Regions from separate parts of the Homo sapiens genome. Here region 2 is linked to region 1. A link means that fine-mapping ties the variant in region 1 to the expression of a gene that starts in the linked region. Tissue or cell type: whole blood. Region 1 holds a variant in brackets; the other region holds the start of a gene. All regions are shown on one strand. Distances are between the middles of the regions.

Region 1 (8,172 bases):
AGAGACACACGCATGAGATCTGAGGAGGGTGTAGGGGGCAGGTGTGAGCTGAGGCTTGGGGGAGGAGGAGGAGGAACTGGCCAGGGGAAAGGGAAGGAGGCAGGAAGACTGTTGGCCCAAAAGTATCGAGGCAAGAAGCAACCTGGAGTGTCCCGGGGCAGCGTGGGCACAGCTGGTATGCATAGGTGGGAGGGGTGGCTGCTGGGTGGAGGATTAAATGGGGAGGAGAGCACCCATTCAGAGGCTGCTGTGATCACCCAGATGAGGGAGACTGATGGAGGATGGGACATATTTAGGAGTAGAAGATTGGGACTCTGGGGACTGGGGCTGCCATGCTCAGAGACAGGGAGCAGGGGTGGTTTGAGCTTTGTTGCAGATGGGTTGCACTTTGGGTGTCTGGCAGCCATCCACATGGAAGTGTCTCCTGAGCAGGTAGATTTTGCACATGACTCGCGAGAGAGCACTCCAAGCTGGTGCTAGAGATTTGGGTGACACCAGTGCAGGCTTGGTGGCTGAGTCTGCAGGGTGGAATGGATGACGGATGGTGGAAGGGAGAGAGAAGCGGGCCAAGGGCACAATCTGGGAGTGGGGGCATCACCATGTATAGGGCAAGCAGAGCACACAGGGAGCTGAGAAGGGAGGGGTGGAGTGGTAGAGAAGACTCATGTAAGCCAGGCACAGTGACTCATACTGTAATCTCAGTGCCTTGGGAGGCTGAGGCAGGAGGATCACTGGAGGCCAGGAGTTTGAGACCAGCCTGAGTAACACAGTGAGATCCCATCTCTACAAAAAGTCAGGCATGGTGGTGTGTGCCTGTGGTTCCAGCTGCTTGAGAGGCTGAGGCAAGAGGATGGTTTGAGCCTGGGAGGTTGGGGCTGCAGTGAGCTATGATCGCACCACTGCACTCCAGCCTGGGCAACAGAGTGAGACCTTGTCTCAAACAAAAAAAAAAAAAAAAGAAAGAAAAAGAAAAAGGAAACCCCATGTTGCTGCAGGCAAAGGAACAGACAGTCCATGTCTCAAGAAGGACAACAGACAGTCCATGTGTTTACTTGCACAGGATTGGGCACGTCCCCAGACTTAGCAACCAAGTGGGCACCATGGCCTTTCTGAGAGTAGCTTCAGGGGCAGACTATAGGCTGCAGGAGGACTTAAGGGCATCTGCTGAGAGGCAGTGGGCTTGGGGAGAGATCCCCGTGGCAGCCCTTATCAGCTGTGCCACTGTCGCTCCTTTTTATAGCTCTCCCCATCCAGACGGAGCTTCAAGAGGGAAGACACCACTTCTACATTCTTTGTGTTTCAGAACAATCCAATTCATTCCAAACCTATTCGATGCACACCTACAGTGCTCACCATGCATGTGCTCAGGGCTGGGGACGTATGACTGAGCCTCGGACTTCTGGTGAGGGGCACGGTAGGTCCCTAGACTGTGCAAATGAAGCTCTGGGCCAGGTTCTGCCACCAACCTGCCATGTGGCTGCAGGTGATTTATGATGTTCTCTCTAGAGGTTTCCTCATTGGTGGTAGGTGATTTCTGAAGCTCCCCTTCATGACAAAAATGTGATAATTCTAGGACCTCTCTGCCTGCTGCTGTATTATTTGCCCACTGAGGCCTTGGCAGGGTCAGAAGCCTGGGGTGGTGAAGGAGATGGTGAGCGGACACCTTTCCAAGATCTCCCTGCCTTTCAGCTCCTTGTCTTGGGGACCCAATGTCCTTGGCCTTAAGGCCCCACATGCTCTGTCCCTTACAGCTCTCCAGCCTCACCTCATACCCATGCTCCCTGGTTTTCTGGGCTCCAGTTACAATGGTCTTCTCTCAGATTTTGTTCTCCCCACAAGCTTTCCTGCCCCAGAGCCTTTACACATGCCACTCCCACTGACTAGCACCCTTCCCTTAACCCCTCTGCTCGACTCCTCTTCATTCTTTACTGCTTCTCTCAAATGTGGCTTCTGCAGAAGCATCTCAGGTCCCTGGGCAACATTCACACCCCATGACACACCTTCCGAGCACTCTACACTTCTGCTAGCTCTTGTACAAATGTGATAACCAAGTAATTATCTGCTTACTGTCTATCTAGTTTCACCCTTGGACTCAAATGAGAGGGGTCCCTGCCATGGGTCCTCTTGCAGGAGAAGGCTCCTGTGTCTGTGGCTCTCCCCACAGGGTGAGGAATCTGGGGAGCCCTCTTGAAGCCTGGACCTGCCCTTTAGAACATGCTTCTGATACATGGGGCCCCAGCATGCCCCGCCCAAATAGCTCCAAGCCCATTCCCTCAAGGGTGGACTACGTCACCAGTGGGGTAGCCAAGCGGCAGCTGGCTGCAGGGGGTATGGGCAGTTGGCACACATGGACTACGATGTCCACATATGTGCCCGTGAGCCTCTGCTTGGGGGAGGAGGGCTCTGTGGGAGGGAAGATGAGAGGGAAGGCTGAGCCCAGGGCCTGCCCTTCTCCGGCCACCACATTTGGGCATGGAACTTGGAAAAGTCAAAGAAGTTTAAATTAGAACCTGGCCTTCCAGGTCATTATCAAGACACATTTGTCAAAGTAGGAGAATAGAACATATTTTATTTAACAGTTGTTAGCTTGATTGATAACTTTTAAATATTTAGACATATGGTATGAGGCCCCTGTGTGTACTCTTGCCCTGGCCCTGTTGGCAATGGGGTGGGCTTGGGTCAGCCTCACCCATCAGACCACAAGCTCCACCAGGGCAGGCAGCCCATGCAGTGCCCCTGCCCAGAGCACAGCACCTGGCACAGAGGAGCAGACAATAAATACCGGCTGTGAGAAACAAATGGGATAATCCAAGCCGAATGCTTGGCATGGTGCAAATGTCCAATAAATATCAGCTGTCATTGTCTGTTGAATAAATGAACAGGTGGGTTGGTGGGGCTGGGGGCCAAGAGCCACAAGCTGAGGTGGCTTGTGTCTGAGGAGGGAAGGGACCCGCTGTTCCCTGGGGTTCACGCTTCCTTTCTTGAGGTTGTGTCCTCCTTCCCCACACCCTGCAGGCCTGCCCAGCTCTTCGTGGCAAAGCGGGCCCCAGATGGGTGTACTTGTGTGTCAGAGTGCCAAGAGGGGCTGGGAGCTCCTGCTAGGGCTATGTCCCCCTCCCCTAGGACAGAACAGCTGGGACAGTTTCCCTCTTTGCCTTCAGGGGCCTCCCCAGGTCCAGACAGAACACACCCAGCTTAGTTCCTTTCTTTTCACATAGGCCCAAAGGTTGGATGGGTGGTAGCTGAAAGAACTGATTTTCCCCCTACCCAGGCTGTACTCTGGTGTGGGAGGAGCCTTTTCTGGGGAATGAGGTCACTCACTGGACCTTGAGCAAGTCACACTGCTGCTGCAGGCCTCAGCGTCCTTGTCTGTAAAATGGGATGGTGTGTGGAACTGGTGCATGCCGAGCGGCAGATGCAAGGTGTGCACTTGGTGAATGGGAAGAAGCCTTGCACAGAACACCAGTGGGTCAAGGACAGCAGAGGCCCGGGACCCCCAACAGGAAAGCAGATGAAACTGGCCCACAGCCAGCCTGTGAGAGGCTCAGGCAGGAGGTCATCCCTGAGGCCTGAGGAGGATAGCTTCAGCAGCCCACACTGAAGGCTGGGTCAGTCCTGTTTCCACAGTGGGGAAGTGATCAGAGCTGCCTCATGACTGGCACAGTGCCAGCACAGGGCCAGGGCCCACAGGGTCTCTGTGAAGGCCTCCACGAGGTGAGGGCCAGAAGCAGCCAGGAAGCCCTCCATCAAACTCCTCCTCCCAGCACCTACCATTCCAGAAAACAAACTCTCACCCCCACACACGCTATCGCACACGCACAGTAGGCGCGATGCAACAGAGAAAAAACCGAATTAACCCCCAAACAGGACGTGACGGGAAGGGAAGGGGGGATGGGGAGTTGGGAAGAAGGAATCACATTTTGCAAACTGCCCACTAGGGGTCACCGTACCCTCAGAACCGAGGGTGCAGAAGTCACACCGGCCTGCGGCTATGCGCTGGCGGAGGGTCCCAGAGAGAAGAAGGCCCGGCTGCGTGGCCTCCGCCGCCCAGCTTGTGTGGCAGGACCGCGGCCGCCGCCCCAGTCACAGGCCAGCAGTCA[G/C]TGCGGCGGGAAGATGTCCGCGCACTGCTGCAGGATGAGCTCCACCACCTGGTTCTGGAACACCATGGTCATGGGCATGCTGGTCTCTTCCACCTCGGGCCGCAGCAGCGTGGGCCCGAACACAATGGCCACGCTCTGCACCGACATGCGGTTCTGCTCGCCGTGCTCGATCACCCTGTGGCAGGGGTGGGTGGGTTCAGGGCTCCGAACTGCGAACTGCGGGGAGGCGCTGGGGGCTTCAGCCGGGACCTGCCTCCCCCTTCCCGCGCGGGCCGCCCGGCTCACCGGCAGAGGTGCTGGAAGAGCATCCGCAGAGTGTCGTGGTTGGGAGCGGGCAGCGAGCGCACCAAGTCACGCACACAGCGGCTGCGCCGGGCCTGGTCCTGCAACTCTGGGTGAGGGAAGGTTTAGAGGGAGGGAGTCGGAACGGGAGGTAGGGGGTATCGGCTGGGCGAGGGGAGCCTGCTAAAGGGGTGCCCCGCCACGCCCCTACCCCATCCGCCCCACCTGCCCCAGGTGCTCACTGATGGCCGCAATGAACTGGCGGAAGTGCGAGAAGGGGAAGAGGGGCTCGGGCAGCTCCCGAAAGAAGAGCTTCAGGGCTCCGGTGATAACGTGGACGTCCTCCCAGCGCCCGTCATCCAGGTCAAGGCGCTCATCTGTGGCGGAGGAAGGGAGGAGGACGGAAGGGAAATCAGTACCCCTTGCGCCTTCAGGCCCTGGGGCAGGGGTTGGGGACGGGCCTCACCGTGGTCCACCTTATAGCGTAGCTTCTGGATGGTGGCCAGGTTTCCACTGATGCGGTACAGCCCGTCGATGTCCAGCCCTGGGCCAGAGGGAGGCGCTGATCCCGGGTTCAGGGATGGGGATAGGGTGGGGCTACGGGTCCCTGCTATGACTCCCACTCGGGGCCTCCCGTACTTTCCCCCTGGACCCTGCGTCCATCCAGGGGTCTCCAGCCTGCGGTCCTGGCAGGAGGCCTGCGGGCACCCCAATGCCTGCCGCCCTCACCCCCGCAGCGCACGTACCGCGGGCCTCGACGGCGCGGATGCACTGCTGCACGAAGCGTGGCACCCGGCTCCTCTCGCGCTCACACAGCGCGGCCAGCGCGCAGCCGAACACCTGGTCTAGGGCAGAGGCTCATCAGCTCCTGCCCAGCCTGCGCCCCGTCCCGGTCCCGGGTCCCCGCCCCCCGCAGGCCTCGGGTACCTTTGATGTAGCCCTTCTCCCGCAGCGACTGCAGTGTGGGCCGCCTCTGGAGGAACTTGCGGAGCTTGTGCCGGACCTTGCTCAAGTCGCTCTCCAGGCCCACGGGGCCCAGGGCGGGCGCGGCTGCCGCGGGGAAAGGCAGGACTGAGTCAGGAGGCAGCGCCAGGGCAGGCCAGGCAGGCCCCAGCAACCGTCACTCCCCAGGAGAGGCCTCCTGGAGCCCCCACCCCATCCTGCCTTGCGCACACCTGCATTCGGTCGCGCGTCCTCCTCTTTCTCCTGCCAGCTTCCCAAGCGCTCGCTCGACCCGAAGTCCACTCTGCTGCTCTCGCTCTCCTCTGGGGGCAGCTCTGCGGACTGGATTCCCATAGCCTCAGAGAGGCGGGGCCTTGAGCCAGCTGCGGGTCCTTCCAGGATGGGGCAAGGGACCCGAAATGCACTCCCAACAGGCATGGCCTGGAGACCCTCAGCGAAGAGTCCTCTCTTCCCTTAACCAGGTTAACTCTCCTTACCTCCACCAGTGAGCCTGAGAACATTCACCTCCCTTAGCTGCATGGAGCCCTTAAGGTGCAGAGACAGTCATCCTGTTCTCCCACACCCCTTCCTATCCTGGGGACTCCTACCCACCTGGTGCCTTCTTTCTCTATTTTCCTCAGCTCCTCTAACTGGGTCAGCATTCCTCAATACGTGGCTCCCAGTTCTGAGCCTGCACCTCCAGCTGTGGCCGGAGCACTGCCAACAACTGCACCAATATCACCTCTCTGGCTCTGGATTCCTACCTCTATTAATACAGCCAAAAGCTTCACTCAATGTTGGCTCATAGGGAATTAAGGGTCAAAAAGCCCCAGGTCATTTCCAGGTCAGTAGTTGTCAGAGGGCCCCTGTCCTAGCTCTACTTATGCAATTGGTGTTTTCAGCCTTAAAAAAATGGTCGACTATTGAAATCAATCCTTTAAAATTTTATCTGCTAGTTTCAGCCTGCCATTGGTTGGCTTGCAGAGTATTTATTTGGCCTTCTGCCTCCCGTGAAATGGGAACTTCCTTTAGAATGTGCCCTACCCTCACCTGGAGAGTCTTCCTGCAGGGCCAACCCCAGGGCTGGATTCACAGACTTACAGAAGGCAGTTTCTTCAGCCGCCTACCCTGCCATCCTAGCCATTAGTGGGGACTGCATTTGCATTACCCACTGGTACCTTAGAGCTCCCTGAGCCTGAGCAGAGGGCCCCACTCATAATGGCCACCCCCTCCCCACTGCCCCTAGAGGCCCTGGGCTCTGCTTACCAGCTCCTGGATGCCCTGAGCAATGGCCTTATGCCAGGTGCTGATGATGGCCTCCGAGTCGTGCTGGATCAGGTACTCAGAGCCATCTCGGCTCCGTAGCTGGAGGGACACAAGTCAGTGGGTCATCTCTGGTACCCTGGGTCTGCCCTGGGGGTTGGCCCTAGTTGGGGGTAGGTACAGAGATAGAGGTGACCTGTCCCTGCCCCCAGGCACTCAGAGCTTAATGGAGCAAGGGCCTCACCCCAGGCTAAGTCTTGGATCTCTGCCTCACGTAAAGCAGTGGCTGACAGCATCTCTGTGTTACAGATGAGCAAACTGAGGCTCAGCAAGTTTTAGCTGCTTCCTCATGGGCACACAGCTAGTGAGTGATGAGCACAGAGCTGCATGGCTCAATTGTCTGGTACACTTTCCCTCCCCCATCCTGCCTCCCTGCAAGCCACAGAACATGGCAGGCCTCATGCAGAGCACTGGCCTGCAAACTAAGTGAAAGAAACTTCCTATGTGAGGCCAGGCACGATGGCTCATACCTGTAATCCCAGCACTTTGGGAGGCCGAGGCGGGCAGATCATGAGGTCAGGAGTTTGAGACCAGCCTGGCCAACATGGTGAAACCCCGTCTCTACTAAAAATACAAAAATTAGCCAGGCATGGTGGCGGGCTCCTGTAATCCCAGCTACTTGGGAAGCTGAGGCAGAAGAACTGCTTGAACCCGGGAAGCGGAGGTTACCGTGAGCCGAGATCATGCCACTGCACTTCACCCTGGGCGACAGAGCAAGACTCCGTCTCAAAAAAAAAAAAACAAAACAAAACCCAGAAACTTCCTATGTTGAGACCCCTGTCTACTAGAAGCAACAGTGAATATAGGGAGAGAGGATTTGAAAGCTGATCATGGCTGATCCCAGGGAAAGAAAGGTCTCCCCTTGCCCCTCCCCATACACACACTGAGGACTCAGAAACGTTGTCCCACCTTCTGCAGCCAGGAGTCCCCACCACCTCCCACACTCCAGCCTGGGCAACACATCTTCTGTTAGCCCGCTTCATCATGAAGCATAAATTAAACAGAACACCAGAGGGAAACTTGCCACCATAGGACTGACGCTCAAAGCCCTTTCTGAGTTGGATGGCAGCTTAGTTGGATTCCTTATCAGCCTCTGGCTCTGAGGACCCAGTGTTCCAGGTTAATGTGAATGTTTGGCGGCAACAGCTCACACCAACCCTGCCCTTTTGGTTCAGCGAGAGTCAGAGACAACAGAAACTGTCTCAGACCCCAGGACACAACTTCTAGAATTGGATTGGACTATCTTTGCTGTCCTTTTAAACTTATACTTGAAGACTATTTAAACTGCTTTTTAAAATGAAATGAGGCTGGGCGCAGTGGCTCATGCCTGTAATCCCAGCACTTTGGGAGGCTGAGGCGGGTGGATCATGAGGTCAGGAGATGGAGACCATTCTGGCTAACACAGTGAAACCCTGCCACTACTAAAAATGCAAAAAATTAGCTGGGCCTGGTGGCACGCACCTGTAGTCCCAGCTACTCGGGAGGCTGAGGCAGGAGAATCGCTTGAACCCGGGAGGCAGAGATT
Region 2 (8,172 bases), 37 kb after region 1:
TCATAGGTAAAGGGCTGCCGCACCTCTGCGCTTCTCAACACACACTCTCTGTGCACTCTGTTTGAGCCAGACCCTGGGCCAGATGCGAGGTTCAAAGAGCAAGGCCATTCCCCCACCTCCAGGGGCTCTGCTCAGATGGGCAGGCACCCTCCCACCGTCACTAGGACAGAGTGGCAGTGCCCAGCCCCGCCCGCCGGGTGCCGTTCCCCACCCTGGCCACAAGGCGGCGGGCTACCGCTGCAGAAGCCTGAGTGAAGGCGGCGGAGACCCAGGGAAGCCAAACCAGGACTACCCAGACAGCCTGGGTGGACCCCCTGCTGCTGTCAAGCGCTTCGAAGCCTTACCTCGTTTAAGGCTCACAACCCTAATCCTTAAGTATTGTGCTTACACCAGAGGACGCTGGGCCTGGGGGAACGTCCTCGCGTGTAAGTTAAGTGGCTGTCAGCAGCTGGCAGGTGACCCAGCAGAATCCAGTTCCCCTTTCCCTAGTCTCAAAACCTGAGCTCTGCATTGTAACGAGTCGGGCGGAGGGAACACCCAGCAGCGGGCCTACGGAGGCGTGTCTCCTTCGTCTGGGCATCCCGGACTCAGTCCTGGCACATAGTGGGCATCAGTGTTCATGGTAATGACATCAGGTACAGCGAAAGAAATCAGAGGCTCCCGAGGATCAGAGGTCATCTGTCCAACCCCTCCCTTTGGGCTAAAGAACAAACCGAGACCCTAAGAGAGGAAAAGAACTGCCCCTAGATCATCACACGGCCGGTGGCAGATGGCAGAACGGTTCTGAGCATCTTTTTTTCCCCTCGGGCTGCCCCTCTCTGAAAAGTTCCTAAAGTTCAAAATGTCAGGGTCGCCTAGAGTGTTCTGAGGATGTAAGACCTGTTTTTAAAACGTGCTCTATTTTCGATTTCCCAGATGAACACAACTGGACTCTGAAGAGGGGGAAAAAAACAACCTCACTTAACCGGACGTCTTTCTGAAACAAACCCATCAAGAGTTCTTTAAAAAAAGGAACTGAAATGCTGGAAGCACCCTCAAAGGGAAGCAGACGCCTGACTTTCACATCCACCCTCTCATCTGACCCCAGACTCCTGGGAGACGGGCAAGTCGGTTGGGCCGGGGCAGGCCCGCAATCCCCCGTTCCGTGCCCAGATGCGCTTCGGAATACAGAACAGCTGGGACTTGGAAAGATAATATGGGGCACACACCTGCAGTAGGTTATATAACCTCCCAGCAGGGCTTGGGGCAGCAGCCGACCATCGAGCTCATTTGCATTTCTGCAGCGAAACATGAATATTCACACAAGTGCGATAAATAAAGACCATCAGCAGCCTCACATCAGTTCAAGCGCAATTTTGCCACCAATTGGATTACGAAAAGCCTCTGGGCTTCCAGGGAGCTTTGGAGCTTGGGAATTGCTGATGAGGGACTGCGGGCGTGCACCCCTCACGTTTCGCGGTTGGGGAGAGGGAGCTCATCCGAAGTCTTCGGACAGAGGTGGGCGTCGTGCCCGACGCTGAGCGGAGCGGGTCTCCTTGCGCCCCGGCTCCGTGCGGGCGCGGTCCCTAGCGCGCCACCCGCCTCCGCGCCCCAGCGCCCGGGGAGGTACCTGCTCTGCGCTCTCCTCCGGCGGCGGGACGTGCAAGTCCTGGATGACCTCGTAGACGTTCTCTGAGTCGCTGCGCGCCAGAGGCCGCGGGCACACCCAGGAGCCCGCCACGCTGCAGGCCTTGAAGCTGCCGCTGCTTCCTAGGAGGCCGGCGGGAGGCGAGACGGCGGCGCAGGCCAGGTCGTTCAGGGACTGCGCGGGCCGCACGGGCGCCGCGGGCCGCAGGTACAGGCAGGCTGGCAGGCCGGGCGCCAGGCTGCTGCGCTGGGTCGCGGCGCCGCGTTGCGCAGGGCCGCACAGGGAGCTGGCTCGGCCTCCGGACTCCTCGGGGGCGCCGTCGGGGCCCGCGGTCGCCGCCGCGCTCACAAACCGGTAGTCGTAGGCGAGCGGCTCAGGGGCCGCGGGGCTCGGGTGGGGACCTGGCGGCGCGGCGGCGGCAGGGTTGCCCAGCGCGGGCAGCTCGCGCACGTACTGCGCAGGCAGGTAGAAGGGGCGGCCGCCGGGCTCACGCCGCACGTGCCACCAGTGCTCGGTGCTGCGCCGCAGCAGCCGGTAGCGCTCATTCGGCCGGATGGCCACGCGGCGCCCGTCCTTGCCGGTGTACTCGAAGGGGTGCTCCACCAGCACGTACACGTCCCCCACCACGTCCGCCGCCATCGCAGCCGCGGCGTTTTCCTGCGGGCAACAAGAAGGAGGGCCGCGGAGGTCAAGACCACCGAGCCTGGAATAGCCCCGCACTCGGGGACAGACTTGGGTTCGAGTCCCGATCCTGCACTCGCCGTTCGCCTTCGGGCCTCAGTTTTCCCATCTCTAAAATGGGAACTTGCATAAAATCACATGTAAGGCTTCCATTCTTACACTCAGTGCTGGAATTAGGACAGCCCTTCGTTCTGTGGGGTTGATTCTAAGATTTGACCCTTGCTTCAGTCCTGCGGTGGGGAGATTGTGGGTAGTCTTGGTCCAAATCGACTGCGAGGGAAGCCTTGGCTTTAAAACGAGGGGTGATTGCCCGCTCTAAGGTCGACACCACGCTTGCTTAATAGTTGACTGCGCCTTAGTTTTCCGTCAGTCAAGTAGGAAGAACACCCCATTTACTGCCGCTCCCCGGCTCTGTCCCGCCTGGAAGCCTCCCGCCCGCAGAGAATCAGCAGAGGGTCTCGTAGCACTGCCTCCCTCCAGCAGCTTGCGCCCCGACCCCCTGGTCAGAGTTGGAATGTGGGCTCTGTAGGGGGCCGAGCGAACAGCTCTACCTGGGGGCTGTCGCTGCCCCCCTTAGTCCGAGGGCCTTGCTGTAGAGGCCTCCGCTGCCAATGCAGGGGAACCGGTTCTCTCGGTTTCTCTTTCCTTCCCCAGCTGCATCACCGCAGACGTGAGCCCGAGCCCGGCCCGCCCAGCCCGGCCCGCACCGCCCCCTGCTCTCCAGCTCTCACGCCGCCCCCCGAGAAAGGCCCTGCCCCTGTGGCCTGTCCACCTGCCCTGTGACCCCTACAGTGTCCCCACGAGTGGCTCCTGGAGAATGCACTCTGAGACAGTGACTATAAGTGCGGAGTCCCAGAGCAGGGCCACCCAAAGCTCTCCGGAGTGGTGGTCATAAGCCCCGCTCCCGCCCGGGCTTCGGGGTGTCAGGGATGGGGGAGAGCCTAACTAAATCTGTCTGCGCCCCTCCACCAAAGCCATGAGTCGGTTTTCTCCGGAAGTGCATGGCCCCTCCAAACTCCCACACTGACCACACCTCTTCCTGCCCCCTAAGGTGGCCCGGACCCGGGGCCAGGAGACCGCCGCTTGCCGAGGCAGAGGAGCAGGTTCCAACGGGGGCCCCAGCAGGGCTCCTCCGCCACTTTGTCAAGCGTTCCTCGACGAGGAAAGGGTGTAAACTGAGTCACTAAGCACGCTGGGCCCCGGAGGCGGGGTCATCGAGCTGCCCGGTGCTGAACCAACAAACCCCAAGCAGGACACTCCCCCGGCGCCCCCTCCCCTTGGACCCCGCAGCGCACTCACGTCGGCTGGGCGGGCCTCAGGGAGCCCATGGGCTGGGTGGGCGGAGCCGGCGGTGGCTGCAGGTTAGGCCCCTACCATCGCCCTGGGCGGGGTTTCCAGGGGCGAGGCCGGAGAGGCTGCGCGGAACAGGAGCTGGCAAGCAGAGCGAAGAGGGACAGGGACGCTCAGGAGTGCTGTCACCGATACCCAAAGCAGCCGTGTCTGGGTGGGGCGAGGAGGAGCCTGAATGCCTCTGCTGGGGACCTTGGGGGGCATTGGGACGAGGCCCAGAGCAGAAGGCCGGCACCTGGAGCCGGGACTGCTGCGTCTGAAGGGGCACTGGCAGGTCGCGAGCGGAGCCCAAGGAGGATGGGACCGCCCCCGCTCCGCCTTCCCCCTCTATTCCCCGCCCCCCCACCCCCCACCCCCCGGGATTTGCTGTCCGGGAGTGCCTGCGTCCCTCCTGTGCGCGGCTCTGGGAATGCCGGGCTGGGGCTGGTTGTCTCGTGCGGGCGTTCCTGTTCCCGGGGAGGTCATTTGCACCCTGAATCACCCACTGCGAGCCCTTCCAACCGGATTGCAAATCCGCCCGCTCCGGGCCCACCTCTTCCCTCACCAGGGCCTTTCCCGGAGCAGCCCGGCCGGGCCTGGAAAAACTCCGAGCGGGATTCCCAGCGCAGGGACGCCCACCGGAGCTCGATGTCTCGGGCTGGATAAGAAGGGGACCGGACCTCGGTTCCTTCCCCGACCCTGGGGAAACGCAGAGAAGGGGAGGGATTGGGGAAGCCGGGAGGATCCCTGGAGCGCGACAGCGCACCAGTCGCCAGGAGGTCCCCTGCGTCCACTGCCCAGGCGACTCAAGCTACAGGGGCGTCAACGCCTGGGTCGGCGCTGGGGGCCTGGGCCTGCTTCCCTCCAGCCCCCAGATGGAGGGCAGCCCTTCGCCTACCTTCTCCTCCCCGTGGGATGCGGCCCGCGCAGCTCCCGCCCCAGCGCGGAGACAAGGGGAGCAGGCGCGCGGAGCTCCCGGGTGCGGACCCGCCACCTGCCGCACCCTTCCCTTCCCAACCCTGCCCTTTCCCCACCCCCACCCCACTTCCCACCCCCAACCCCCGCTCGGCGCCCCACTCCCGACCCTGCCTGCCCGGGCACCTCGGGGCGTCCGCTCGCCGGCTTCGCCTCCACTTGCCCCGGCAGGCGCGCGTGGGCTCGGCGTCCCGCGCTCCCTCCTCGACTGTGCGGCTCCCGCGCTGCCGGGTTTCCTGTTCAACAATATAACCAGGGAGGCACCGGCGGAGAGCGCCGGGCAGAACTTCCTCCCGGACTGGGGCTGGGCTGCGGTTGCGAGAGACAATCCCCGGTGTCCTGGCTTCCTGTCCCCTCTGGGCCGGGCCAGCGCCTGAGGAGCGAAGACGCCACCCCCTCCCCTGCCTTTCCCGGGATCCTGGGCCGCACCTGGCTGTCTCCAGGGAGAAAGAGGCTGCGGGGCTGAGATGGTGGGACTGGGGAGGGCGGGAGCCTCCCCCGCAGGTTCGCCTGGCCAGATTGCCCTCCCACCATCCCCCACCCCCTCTTGATCCTTGTGGGGAAGGAGGGCCACCCTCCAATCCGTCCACAGGGTAAGCTCAGAACAACCTCCAGGAGTCCAGCCCCAGGGCCCTCCGCCTTGGGGGTCTTCTGTTGGAGAATTTTCTGCCTCTCTGGACAAGCAGCCTCGCCCTGATCTGAGCCTGCACTCACTCCAGACATTACAAGCCACAGCCCCAGCACACCCCCTGCCCTCAGGGGCCCCAAGGAACAGTTGTGCCTGTGGACCTGGCTGTGTGTGCCAAGAGCTGGCTGATTCAGGCCAGTGTTCTGGGAGGAAGAAGGGCCCGCATCCCAGGCCATGGCCTCTCTTGACACCACCTCCTGGGGACCCAGGGTTGGGTGGGAAGCTGAATCTGGCCACCCAGATTCAGAGGAACTCCCTTACCTCTATATCTTTGTAAGATATAGTAAGTAAGGAACTCCCTTACCTCTATATCTTTGTAAGATATAGTAAGTAAGGAACTCCCTTACCTCTATATCTTTGCCTCTGCTAGGCATTGCCCACCTGTGAGTCCACACTTCCTCTGAGAATCTGTGTGTCTGAGCCTTGGTGGCACCTTGGGACCCTCCAGGGTGGGCACACAGCAGAACTCAGCACTGGTCTTTGGTGCCCGACATGCTTAGAAAATAGTGGCTGGTGCCGGGCACGGTGGCTCACGCCTATAATCCCAGCACTTTGGGAGGCCGAGGCGGGCGGATCATGAGGTCAGGAGATTGAGAAACCCTGGCTAACACGGTGAAACCCCGGCTAACACGGTGAAACCCCGTCTCTACTAAAAATATAAAACATTAGCCGGGCGTGGTGGCGGGAGCCTGTAGTCCCAGCTACTCCGGAGGCTGAGGCAGGAGAATGGTGTGAACCTGGGAGGCGGAGACTGCCGTGAGCCATGATCGTGCCACTGCACTTCAGCCTGGGCGACAGAGCAAGACTCCGTCTCAAAAAACAACAACCAAAAAAGAAAAAAAGAAAATCGTGGCTGGAGGAATCTTCTCTCCCTCCCTACCTTTTAGGTCCCTCTCCACCTGCAGCACAGCCAGGCAGTGGCTGGCAGTGGTGATGGTCTTTGCGTGGGGTCAGGCAGGTATGATGCCCCACTCTGCTGCTTGGCGGCTGGTAGGCCTTGGGAGTTCTGCCTTATCTCTGCAGCTCAGATTTCTTTCCTGTCAATGGGATAGTAACACCCACTTCACTGGATTATTGGGAAGATTAAATGAGGTCCACTAAGCAGTGCTTACCACATGCCCAGCGCACACAATATATCAGCTATTTTTTTTAAGACAGAGTCTCACTCTGTCTCCCAGGCCGAAGTGCAGCGGCACGATCTTGGCTCACTGCAACCTCCGCCTCCGGGTTCAAGTGGTTCTCCTGCCTCAGCTTCCTGAGTAGCTGGGATTACAGGCACCCGCCATCATGCCCAGTTAATTTTTGTATTTTTGTAGAGACGGGGTTTCACCATGTTGGCCAGGCTGGTCTTGAACTTCTGACCTCAGATGATCCAACCTCCTCGGCCTCCCAAAATGCTGGGATTACAGGTGTGAGCCACCATGCCGGGGTACATCAGCTATTATGACTACTTACATTATATGATAAGCTCTTGGGGGTTGGATTGGAATCTCCAAACCACCTGTCCTCCTTCAGAGAGAAGAGGAAAAGGGGAAGTCTCAGCTACTCAGGAGGCTGAGGCAGGAGAATTGCTTGAACCCGGGAAGTGGAGGTTGCAGTGAGCCAAGATCACGCCACTGCACTCCAGCCTGGGCATTGGAGTGAGACTGTATCCAAAAAAAAAAAAAAAAAAAAGGGAGGGGAGAAGGGGAAACAAGTGGCCTCAGGGGCGCTTTGCTGAGGCTGGAGAGGGCCTGAACCCACCGGCAGGGCAGCACCAGGTCACGTGCTGTGGCCCTCCTCTGGGCCTCCCTCTCCCAGTTTCTCTTCTCTTCTCCGGGCCTACCATCTACTGTCCTGGAGGGAGGTGAAGCCCTTGGGGGAAGCTGGGGCACCTAGATTGGCAGAGGGTGCCACCTTGTAATCTGAAAGGGGCCTTTAAGGACAGGAAATCTCAGACCTGAATGTTGTCTGTTTCCATCCCATTTTACTGCAACCTGATTTCCCTGAGAATTAAGTCTGTTTCCTGCTCCTGTTCTTAAAATGGACAGTGGTGTGGGCCTCCCCTTGGAGGGGTCCCCTGGGCTTCTCCTGGAACTTCTGAGGAAGGTCAGCAGCCAAGTAAAAGTCATTTTGAGCCCTAAAACCATGAGCCCTGAATCGGGGGATCCACTTAAATAACCCTTCTTTCCTGAGCCCCATCTCTCCTTTATTTCTCCTCTGAGAAATGTCCCCTGTATCCTGAGGTTTCACATGATCCAGTGTCAAGGGTCTGTGTTTTGACATTTAAGTCACAGGAAAAGAAGCCACCGGCGTGGGATCAGCTTGAGTTGTTATACAAGTGTGGGTACACCTCCCCAGAGACCCTGAGATCCTACCCCAGGAAGAGCCTGACTGCTGGGCTTGGCAAGGTGGTTTTCTTACTCTCTTCTCCCTGCCCACTCCTGGCATGCAAGCCCTCTGCCTACAAGTGTTTGCCACGGACCTCCCAAGCCTTCCCCCGTGCCAGGGACTAACATGAGGGTAGGGGACCCTGACAGATGGTAACAGATGGCTGGTGGTCTCCCCCCTGGCCGTGGCAGTGTTAGAATTCAGAAGCCAGACCAGTGATGAGAAAGATCAGGTCTTTACTGCAAAATCATTCAAAACTCACACGGCAGCAATTCCTTCAATACATTGCAAAGACTCCTCAGGGCCAGAGCCCTGCTCACTAGGAACAGTGTATTGCATAAAATAACATTTTAAAAATAGTGTGGGCACTACCTTTCTGAGGGAGGGGAGGCGGGAAGAGTCAATGCATCTGAAAGCACTGGCAGCTTCTGGGGAACGGGCCCCCCAGGGCCTCAAACCTGCTGCCTCCGAGGGCACCTTCGGGGAGAATCCTCACAGGCCC

Evidence for each region. PIP is the estimated chance that this variant, and not a neighbour inherited with it, causes the effect.
Region 2: ARHGAP27 starts here. The variant in region 1 is fine-mapped to the expression of ARHGAP27 in whole blood (TOPMed, PIP above 0.99).

The regions. Positions count from the first base shown.
Region 1 is chr17:45,391,359-45,399,530 of GRCh38, forward strand. ARHGAP27 (Rho GTPase activating protein 27) reads right to left here. Exons shown (of 20, transcript NM_001282290.2): 13 at 6,591-6,689; 14 at 5,558-5,666; 15 at 5,310-5,432; 16 at 5,129-5,227; 17 at 4,849-4,926; 18 at 4,625-4,759; 19 at 4,386-4,491; 20 at 2,550-4,275. The coding sequence ends at 4,098. Among named protein-coding and RNA genes, the nearest start is that of ARHGAP27, 37 kb to the right of the region's middle. RefSeq lists an enhancer at 3,103-3,762 and a silencer at 4,394-4,551. The variant G/C (reference allele first, on the strand shown) is at 4,101.
Region 2 is chr17:45,428,014-45,436,185 of GRCh38, forward strand. It overlaps ARHGAP27 (Rho GTPase activating protein 27), which reads right to left and starts at 4,857. Exons shown (of 20, transcript NM_001282290.2): 1 at 4,739-4,857; 2 at 4,203-4,336; 3 at 3,608-3,739; 4 at 1,610-2,284. The coding sequence starts at 2,266. It overlaps PLEKHM1 (pleckstrin homology and RUN domain containing M1), which reads right to left. Exons shown (of 12, transcript NM_014798.3): 12 at 7,887-8,172. LOC124904016 (a long non-coding RNA gene) reads left to right here and starts at 550. Exons shown (of 2, transcript XR_007065825.1): 1 at 550-635; 2 at 916-1,336. RefSeq lists enhancers at 1,641-2,141, 2,142-2,642, 7,826-8,172.